Linked DNA regions of Homo sapiens: region 2 is linked to region 1. The links come from fine-mapping of genetic effects on gene expression. A gene starts in region 1. The other region holds a variant in brackets. All regions are shown on one strand. Distances are between the middles of the regions.

Region 1 (5,384 bases):
TCAACTTTCTTAAGTATGAAATCACAATACTTCAGTTCAGTAAAGAATAATTCTACATAGTAAAACTGCAAAACCTCAAGTTCTAGAATACACAAAATTGTACAGCACAGCTTCATTTTTGTAAGTTCTTTCCCCCAAATCATATGGTATATCAGGCAAGACCACAGAAATTAAGCTGTTGATAATGAAACCCACTAGTTACAGACTTGAGAAAAATCAGTTTTCTTTCCTCTCCATCATAGTAGACAATATCTGTATCAACAACTTTCAAGAAAAAGCCTGAGTTACTTCTGACTTCAAATATACATGTTATCATCAAAACCTATTTTCCTCTATTATCACTTATTCCAAATCTGTAGCTGCCTTTTCATTCCTTCAGCTACATCCTTGTTCCTGGCCCTAGACTTTTCCCCCTAGACTACTGTACCTCATTCTCATGAGACGGCTTCCCCTGACTGTCTTTAATTCCACTGTCAATGTTAATGTTACCTTCTCTCTAACATTTTACCTATGCCACCTACCCATTCCACTTCAGCTTTTCAAGGCCTTTACATTGCATTTTTATTTAGCTCAGAAGCCTCATCATCAACTATATATTTATTTATAAAGTGGCTGCTGACTTTCAACTCCCCTTAAAATTGACAGTTTCTTCTTGACCTAGTAAATGTATTAAATTCTCCCTTCAGGTAGTCACATTCTCTCCTAATCCATCTGAATACGGAATTTCTTTTGCAGTTAACCCCAAACTCATAGGTAATGTATTTAGAAAAGTTTTGCACAATAATTACATACAATGTTTCTTCATTTGTTTGCGTATCAATGTTATCCATATTAGACTGTAGGGACACCAGATAAGGGCTGCATCTTTCAAAGCAGTCTGTACAACACCTATCTGCTATGTCACTTCACAAAGGTAAGTTGATTCGTTAAATGAAACTATTATTTAATGGAAAGCTTAAGTAGAAAATGTTCATTTTAAAAATGTTTCTACGGTTTAACTTTTAAACATCTATGGCCTTTTTTATTTCCACAGACAACTGACATATTTTGGTTTCTCACTACTCTATTATTGTCAAAGAATGGCTGGAATTTAAAGTGCAAGTTGAGGGTAGATAAAAGATATACACTTTGACATCCCACCATCAGATTATTCGAAAATTGGCAATGTCAGCTCCAGGAATTCTGAAATACAACTGAATCTTCACATACCCAAACAGTTTCAGGACCAAAAGAAGAGAACAGCGCACCTTCTGATTTGGGGGTTCCCTTTTCTGCAACTGGTTTAGACTAGTTTCTCTATCCAAGGGTCTTTTAATTAGGAAAATTCAATTAATCACCATCGATATACGGAAAGAATACCAGGGAAAGGCAATCCTTTACTTAAAAGAGAAAAAAGGAGGCTTTGGATATCACCTTTTCATAAAATTCAGCAGCTAAATTAAGCTTTGCACTCAATATCTGCCGGCAGTCTCAGACATTTTTTTTCTACCTAATAATAAAAGCAAGTCTTATTCAATTTAGTCCCTTCTCGAGCACCGTCTCGACCTGTCAGAATTTGACAGTTAAAGAAAAAATTAAAAAAAGAAGTAAGGGAAACACTAGGATTCCCGTCCACACTGCTTCTTTTTCCGAAATCACATCACTGAGTCTTGGATTTCCTTCACTCCAAACTAAGCCCTCAGATTCCAAATATAGTTCTTTAACCCCCGTCTCGCCACTCAATTACACATAAACCTTGCCAATTACAGAACCACAGCAGAAACCCCTACAAATCCGCTTGCTGTTCATCTTGGAAGTCATGCCCTGCAGCAACTGCCGATCGCCGAAGTGACGGATATTAACCAAATTCAGCGCAACGGAATCAGACATGCAGAACACACACGGCTTTCGCGAGGGAGGGAAACGCGACCCGGGAAAAGTGCGCTCCTCACCAGCCTCGGGACGCTCTACCGGGGTGGGGGTTCCCAGAAAGGAGGGGGAGAGGAGCCCGAGTAGGGGAATCCTGCCCTCTCAAGTAAAAAGCTGGATCCCCGGCAGCAGGCTGCAGCCCGTCCTCGCTAAGGAAACGACGAGGCAGACAGAGGGCCTTTTGCGCGGAAAGGCAGAAGGCAGACACTTTCCGAGGTCCGGACGCAAGCCGATCCCCCATCCCCCGAGGGAGGCGAAGGGTGCCCCATGGGTGGCTGAGGGGACGCCCGGCCCGCGAGGGACAACCCGAGGAGGAGCAGTTTCATCTGATTAACACCTGAGTCTCGTCCAGGCAAGCACAGATACTGGCGTGGGGCCGCCCAGGTGGGGGGAAGGGAAGGAGAGGAAGGGGGTGGAGATGGGATTCCCCCCTCTCTCTGAAGAGCACTAGCGGAGGATGCGCCCAGGCCAGCCGAGAGCGGCATGCTTCAGACTGCGGAGCCGGGATCCCGCCGCCTGCACCGACAGCGCGGAGCCCCGCAGCGCCCTCCGCACCGGCCCCTCGGTCCCCGGGGGCCCAGGACTTTGCTTCCGAAGGCGCTGGGGCCTAACATCCCACGGGGTCGACCCCGGCTCCTGGGGCCTGGGGGAGGGGACCCGCGGGAACACCCCCAATCTCCGGCGGTTCTCAGCGGTTGTAAAATGCACCCCCGCGGTTCCCTTCTTCAGCCTTCCCTCCTCCCGAGGCCGCAGAGAAGGGCCACCACAGGCGAAAAGCCTAAGGCAATGCAGGGACAGCAGCCTCATAGGTCCCAGACCTCCTCCCCCGGTTACCTGTAAGGACTCCGACACGGATTTGATGGTCGTGGTTAGTAAGGATCATTCCCTCGGTCGCCATGTTTCCCAGCGCAGTCACCGCACTGACAGGAGCCGGGAGAAACCGGAGCCCGGAGCGCGCGGGCCGGGAGCGCGCTCGCCGAGGAGAGCGCGACAGCTAGGGAGCCAGAGAAGCGCGAGGAGAGCGGGGAAGGAGGGGGAGGCCACAGAGTGCACGGTGGCCTGCGTGGGGGAGAGGCCGCGCCGGGAGTGCGCGGGTCCGCGGGAGGGGAAGGAGTCAGGGCGCGCGGCCCCAAGTCCGGCAAGAAGGAGGCAAGCTTGGGGGGCGCGGTGGCCGCACGGGGAGAGCGCGCGGAGGCGGCAGAACGAGGCCGGAGAGTGTCGGAACGCTCTGCGGAGCGCGAGACCCAAGGCAGCTAGATGGCAGGACTGAGAGGAAAGGATAGCACACGCTCTGGAGGTTGCGGGGGCGGACTCGGGGACAAGGGCGGAGCTACACCCCTAGGCGTGGAACTCGTGGAGAGTGAGGGGAGGAGTGAGAGCTCGGGTGCTGAGTATTGGGAGCGGGAAGGAGCCGGCCCAGCCTGAGTAGGACCGCGGATCGCTCCTGGGCGCGCGAGTAGCACCGGATTGGCTGAGTGAACGCGGAGCGTGTGCGCGCGAGGCACGAACGCAACCTCGGCCGGGCCCCAGACAGAAGCAATCCCCTGCCGAGCCTGACACCTCGTTGGTTGTCCGCGCCTTAGGCTGGCTCTCGCCGGCGGGCCGGCTTTCTACGCGGGGGCAGCGAGGCTGGCTCAGCACCCCGGGCCTCCTCTTGCAACCCTCGGGAATGGCCGGCCGCCCCACTGAAAGCGCTGGGGAACCGAGAGGTGTCTTAGAAAGCTGCATGAGTGGCAGAACGGTGGCTACTATGACAGAGAGGCCGCCGTGGGCGAAGAGGGAGGTATCCTGTCCTGCCTCGTGCTAGCCGCTGGCTTCCTCAGTGGGCTCTCCCTGAAGGAGGATTTCCGCTTCACCTATGCTTTAGGATTCCATCTCCAGTCAGTGCCTGCAAGACGATCCTCACGTGCGAAACTGAGGAGTCTGAGGCAGGGCAGCTGGAGTGGAGATACCTGGCTTCTCTTCCTCCTGCTGTCCCACGGTTTTGTGGCCTTAAGCCTCTTCGCCATGAGCGCTGCTTTTAGATGAAAAGCATCAATCTCCTTAGCGAACGAGAACGTGTTCCACCTGAACCACAGTCCATTGCCGCGGCGATTTTCATTTCAGTATTCGTGGGATGTGAGATTACCATGAAAGTAGCTTTTGTTGCCATTTATTTCCATGTGCCTTTCATGAAACGTGTTATTAATCACCTGTGGCTATTCTACGTTAGTTTCTTACTATCGTTCTGGACCTTTCAACTTCTGAATTTTAAAAAGTTATATGCGTGTGTGTGTGTGTACACACACTCATATGTATATGTTTTCTCTTCTTAGCTGTAGTAACCTGGAGGCATAAAAGTGAAAAGCAAAGTATTAAAAGATGTATATCAGTGTTTATACACAAATTTCAAAGTCACTTTGATAGGTTTTTTTTTGGTTTTGGTTTTGGTTTTTTTTGATCCGGAGTCTCGCTCTGTCGCCAGGCTCCAGTGCAGTGGCGCGATCTCGGCTCACTTGCAACCTCTGCCTCCCAGGTTCAAGCGATTCTCCTGCGTCAGCCTCCCGAGTAGCTGGAACTACAGGCGCGTGCCACGACACCCAGCTAATTTTTGTATTATTAGTAGAGACGGGGTTTCACCATGTTGGCCAGGATAGTCTCGATCAAGATCTTGACCTCGTGACCCGCCCGCCTTGGCCTCCCAAAGTGCTGGGATTACAGGTGTGAGCCACCGTGCCTGGCCGATTATGAGTTTTTTATTGTTCCGTTGGAACATGAAATTACCCATCCTCTGAAGATTCACGTGCTTATGTATTTCATTTTAAATAATGGGGCCTAAAAGTAGATGATGGATGGAATTGAAGTGGGTAAAATAAATTAATGGCTTTTTTGCTTTTGTTTTTGTTTTTAGTATGTGTATTGCTGGTATTTTTGACAGTAATTAAAAATTTAAGCCAGGTCATGAACTCATTCCCTATCATTGTCACCTTAGATCCTGGTGGCCAACGGGTTGTTAACTAGTTTGAAATGAGAGATAAAGATAAGAAAGTATGTCCAAGAGAATGATTTCCGTTATCTCAAACTAAACATGAAGAGCAAATAGTTGGTTATATTGTTATCTTCCTAACCTATCTCTATTCTCTGCAACACACTCTAAATGATTAGAAAATATCTTGAGCTTATCGTCTGTCTTACATCTATCTTAGACGTAAGGTCTAAACCTGCCCACTAACAGGTTGTGACCCTAAACAAATTTGGGCCTTTTCCTTCATCCTTTAAATAAGATGGTAGACTAAATAAGTACCTTTTAAGTATAGTGGTAGACTAAATAAGCACTCCTTTAATTAGAATATTCTGTAATTATTCATGGAAGAAAACTGGCACTTTATTTCACAAATCAATAATAAGAGGACAAGAGACTAACTTTCTGCATTCATAAAAGGGGTGATGGTTAAATTCATTAAAATTTAAGTGGGAAGGGTGGATATGAATTAAAT
Region 2 (5,384 bases), 360 kb after region 1:
GGAGGCCCTTTAAATTGGAATTCTTGTCAGGCATCTAAGTTCACTTTTCACTTTATAGTGGAAATCGGGCCCGGCCTGGTGGCTCCTGCCTGTAATCCCAGCACTTTGGGAGGCTGAGGCAAGAGGATCACTTGAGCTCAGAAATTCAAGGCTGCAGTGTTCTATAATTGCTCCACCGCACTCCAGGATGGATGACAAAGTGAGACCCTGTCTCTCTCTCTTTCTGTATATCTATCTATATCTATATCTATATCTATATCTATATCTATATCTATATCTATCTGTATATAGATAGATATACAGAGAGAGAGTAGAAATTGGGTCAAATGCCTGTAGTTATATTCTTTCTTAACATGGAGATAATGAGATTCTGTAAAATAGGATTTTAAATTATTTACTATGACCCAAGAAATATGCAGAAGTATGCTCAGGTAACTGACAGCTGAGCTCTTACCTCCTAATTTTTCAGGATAGATAGGCTAAGTTTTGAAAAGTCTGCCTTGACTGCAGCCTCATACTAAGGGATTCCTGTGCACTGGCTTCTCATGATGGAAGTAATGGTCAAGTTACACATTAGTGCCTCACTTCTATATCTTAAACAAATCAGACCTGTAGAAGGTGTCTGATGTATAGATTAGCAAATCCATAGCCTGATGAACGGCAGCCTGTGATAGCATGCAGCATGGAAACTCTGCCAAATAGGAACATCATGAAACTTCCTCAGAAATTTGAACTGGAATTAGAGGAAGGCAGTTGATGAGTTTGTAGGAGTAACAGAAGTGGGACAGCACAGTCTGAGAAGGTAATACACAGATAAAATATGGAAGAGTCCAGGAGACATCATTACCATGAGCATACACATTTCAAGATAGAGCAAAGTCACTAGAGTAGAGGCTGGCATGGATTGTGGAGACGGGGTGGCAGAAGCAAAGACAGAGACGAACTGAGTCAATGTTAATGGTGGAGTTCAAATTGCAGATTAATAACATTCTGCAACTGAGAGAATGTCTGAGGTGCTCTGGTGCTTCCCTTGAGGTCTGGTATGCAGCTGTTTCTCGGCTTCATGGCATACCCTTGCTTCCATGTGTAACTTCATGAGAGACTCCCACAGTGTGAACGAACCGGCAAGGGTCTCTGTTCTTTGCAGCCCAAAGAACCCGGCTAAACACACCAACCCATCTATGCTGCCTTTCTAGTTGGACGTGTTCTTTTGAGACTGCTTTCCTGGGGAGGTGATAAAGTAACTGAGGCAATGAAAAAACTAGTCTGAAGCAAAGAAAATCAGCATTGCCCCCTAAAGCCTAAGAGTAGCACACCAAGGCAAGTTATTTTCTGTATCCAGGAAAAGACAACTGAGGAGCAAGTGCTGAGTGCTTGGGGATTATGTCAGAAACTCCATTTCCAATGTCTTCACTGCCAAGGAATCCCCATTACCCCCACCCCACCCCACCCTCAACCAACCACTTCGGTTTTTCTCCAAGGACACTAAGTTTTGAAAAGATTTAATCTAGCAAACTGGCTCTGTTTATTTAGGTAATACATCATTTTCTCATTGGAATAGATATGAGTCTTACCCATAAGCTCAGGATGAATAGATAATACTTTTTTTACTCTCTAACTCTACCTAATTTTATTCTGAGTCCCCATTTCACTGAGGCAGGAGGAAATTTAACTCAGTCATTCTTGAGGCACTATGTCCCAAGTGAGATAGGGTGCAGGGAATGGTACTGGTCACTAGCCATCTCTGTCCCCATGAGTGGTTAATTCTGAGATCTCCATGGTTTCTTCAGGCTCATTCTCCACAGCTCCCACACCACAGTTGGGCATTGAAATCTTCACTGTGGCCAGAAACTCAGTGCTAGTGTCTCTTTCCCTGAGTGTGACTTGCAGCCATCCCCTGGAAGGTCTGGCCCTTGCCTAGGGGCACTGTCTTGGAAAAGGGCAGTGGTCCAAGATTTTTCTCTTCCTCTTCTGGGCCAGTTGGGAAATCTTTGCTTTTTAGTTTCAGAGCCCTCCCCTATAAAATTAATCTGGATGATAGGAAGTTGAACAGGAAGCCCAGTGCCTGTGGAAAGTTTATTATATAACTGTAACTTGAGCGCTTAGCCATACACACACAAATGTGCATGCATGTGTGTGCTCAGCTGAATTAAATTAGTCACTAAAATCGTGTTTTCTCTCTCAGAATTAAATAATAATTATGTTGATTGAATGCACACGGCGTATGAAGTGACCTGGTAAGTATAAATAAGCTAGTGGGATTTCTGGAGTTTATTTTGGTTGAGTCCCAAAGCAAAGAGGAGCCATGTGGATTAGAGACTCTCATAAAATAAATTCCGTGAAGCAAGTCAATGAACTGTCAGCTCAGTCTCATTAACTTTAGGGAGACCCCAGATGAGGCCTTATTTCTGAAATATCTGGTTGCAGGAAAAGTAAAAACCTGCAAATGTCTCCTTTATGTCTCTTGTTGCCACTAAATTGCTGCCCACTTAATTCTAACCCTGGGCCTCTGCAGAAGGAACTGAATGACCCTGGGCTTGGGGATACATTTTGTTTCTGGGCTTCTGACTTTCTCTTTTAAGTACCCTCCTGCCTATCTTCCAGACTGAAAAAGTCCTCTCTGTGTTTCTCTCAGTTGTCTGTACTAACAGCCTTGAAATTTTAGACCTGTCCCCAGTGATTGGAAAGTGCTGACTCATCAGTTCCAGGATTTTTTCTAAAATGTGTCTTCAGTGGCCTGTGTGGGGAGAGAGGGAAAGACAGAGCAGAAACACCTTTCCTGTGACCAGGGCTTTAAGCTTAGTGTATTCAGGACTTCAGTGCACATTATTTATCTGACCTCACACAGCATTGTGCAGAGTGGTGGTGGTGTCCTTTCACATATGTGATACATGGGGCTCAGCGAGGCAGAGGGGCTTGCTCGGGGTCATAGAGCAGAGCCAGAACTGGACCAGCTCTTCTGTTTCCCACCTCCGTGCTCTTTGCCTGATACCCAGTCCTTCTCA[A/G]TGGAACTAGGTAGTAGCCATACAAGGAGCTCTTAATGTGAGCATGCTTCTGGCCCAGTGGAAACAGCAAGAAAATATTAGACACATTTCTTGCCCTTGAGTCACATAGAGCTTAGTTGTCGCTTTTTTTTTAACTTTTATTTTAGGTTCAGGGGTACATGTGCAGGTTTGTTTTACAGGTAAGCTGCATGTCACGGAGGTTTGGTGGAAGGATTATTTCATCACTCAAATAATAAGCATAGTACCCAGTAAGAAGTTTTCAATCTTCTCACTTCTTACACCCTCCACTCTCACGTAGGCCCCAGTATCTGTTGTTCTCTTCTTTGTGTCCATGTATACTCAGTGTAGCTCCCACTTATAAGTGAGAAGATGTGGTACTTGGTTTTCTGTTCCTGCATGAATTCACTTAGGATAATGGCCTCTGGCTCCATCCATGTTGCTGCAAAGGACATGATCTCATTTTTTATGGCTACATAGTATTCCATGGTATTTATGTACCCCATTTTCTTCATCCAGTCTACCACTGATGGGCATTTAGGTTGATTCCATATCTTTGCTATTGTGAATAGTGCTGTGATGAACATATGCATGCATGTGTCTTTATGGTAGAACAATTTATATTCCTTTGGGTATATACCCAGTAATGGAATTGCTGGGTCAAATGGTAATTCTGTTTTAAGTTCTTTCAGAAATCACCACACTGCTTTCCACAATGGCTGAACTAATTTATATTTGTACCAGCAGTGTTTAAGTGTTCCCTTTTCTCCACAACCATACCAGCATCTGTTATTGTTTGGCTTTTTAATAACAGTCATTGTGACTGGTGTGAGATGGTGTCTCATTGTGGTTTTGATTTGCATTTTTCTGATGATTAGTGATGCTGAGCATTTTTTCATATGCCTGTTGGCCATGTATATGTCTTCTTTTCAAAAGTGTCTGTTCATGTCCTTTGCCCACTTTTTAATGGGGTTGTTTGTTTTTCATGTAAATTTGTTTAAGTTCTTTATACATTCTTGGATACTAGACCTTTGTTGGATACATGGCTTGAAAATATTTTCTCCCGTTCTGTAAGTTGTCTGTTTATTCTGTTGATAGCTTATTTTGCTGTGCAGAAACTCTCTAGTTTAATTAGGTCCCATTTGTTGATTTTTATTTTTATTGCAGTTGCTTTAGGTATCATTGTTACAAAATCTTTGCCAGGACCTATGTCCAGAATGATATTTCCTAGGTTATCTTCCAGGGTTCTTATAGTTTTATATTTTACATTTAAGTCTTTAAACCACCTTGAGTTTTTTTGTATATGGTATAAGGAAGGGGTCCAGTTTCAATCTTCTGCATATGGATAGCTGGTATTCCCAGCACCATTTATTGAAAAGGGAGTCCTTTCCCCATTTCTTGTTTGTGTCCAGTTTGTCGAAGATCTAATAATTGCAGGTGTGCAGCTTTATATCTGGGCTCTCTATTGTGTTCCATTCGTCTGTGTGTTTGTTTTCATACCAGTATCATGTTGTTTTGGTTACTGTAGCCCTGTAGTATAGTTGAAGTAGGGTGGCATGATGCCTCCAGCTTTGTTATAGCCTTGGCTATTTGGGATTTTCTTTTGGGTTCCATGTGATTTTTAAAATAGTTTTTTTCTAATTATGTGAGAAATGTCATTGGTAGCTTGATAGGAATAGCACTGAGTCTATAAATTGCTTTGAGCAGTATGGCCATTTCAATGATATTGATTCTTCTTATCCATGAGCATGGAATGTTTTTCTATTTGTTTGTATCATCTCTGTTTTTTTTTTCTCAGTGAAGTGATTTTTTTATTCCTTCTCATTTGCAGACATATATATATATATATATATGCAAACACAAACATATAAACAAATGTGTTACTTTTTTAAGGATGTTTCTTTTTTTAATTTTACTTTAAGTTTCGGGATACATGTGCAGAATGTGCAGGTTTGTTACATAGGTATACGTGTGCCATGGTGGTCTGCTGCACCTATTGACCCATCCTCTAAGTTCCCTCCCCTCGCCCTCTACCTGTAACAGGCCCTGGTATGTGTTGTACCCTACCTGTGTCCATGTGTTCTCATTGTTCAACTCCCACCTATGAGTTAGAACATGAGTTTGGTTTTCTATTCCTGTGTTAGTTTGCTGAGAATGATGGCTTCCAGCTTTATCCACGTCCCTGCAAAGGACATGATCTCATTCCTTTTTATGGCTATGTAGTATTCCATAGTATATATGTACCACATTTTCTTTGTCCAGTCTATCATTGATGAGCATTTGGGTTGGTTCCATATCTTTGCTATTGTAAATAGTGCTGCAGTAAACATACATGTGCATGTGTCTTTATAGTAAAATGGTTTATATTCCTTTGGGTATAGA

Which allele goes with the higher level. Positions count from the first base shown, and alleles are read on the strand shown. Sizes are in standard deviations (SD) of each study's normalised expression.
As copies of G replace A in region 2, the expression in cerebellar hemisphere of the gene that starts at base 3,187 in region 1 goes up (large effect, 1.0 SD a copy in GTEx).

What was found.
Region 2: its variant is fine-mapped to the expression of GPHN in cerebellar hemisphere (GTEx, PIP 0.93).

What each region holds. Positions count from the first base shown.
Region 1 is chr14:66,505,950-66,511,333 of GRCh38, reverse strand. It overlaps GPHN (gephyrin), which reads right to left and starts at 3,187. Exons shown (of 23, transcript NM_020806.5): 1 at 2,743-3,187. The coding sequence starts at 2,806. RefSeq lists enhancers at 1,903-1,952, 2,203-2,362 and silencers at 2,453-2,602, 2,953-3,142.
Region 2 is chr14:66,149,784-66,155,167 of GRCh38, reverse strand. No RefSeq gene overlaps it. Among named protein-coding and RNA genes, the nearest start is that of LINC02290, 41 kb to the right of the region's middle. RefSeq lists a silencer at 2,630-2,830. The variant A/G (reference allele first, on the strand shown) is at 3,006.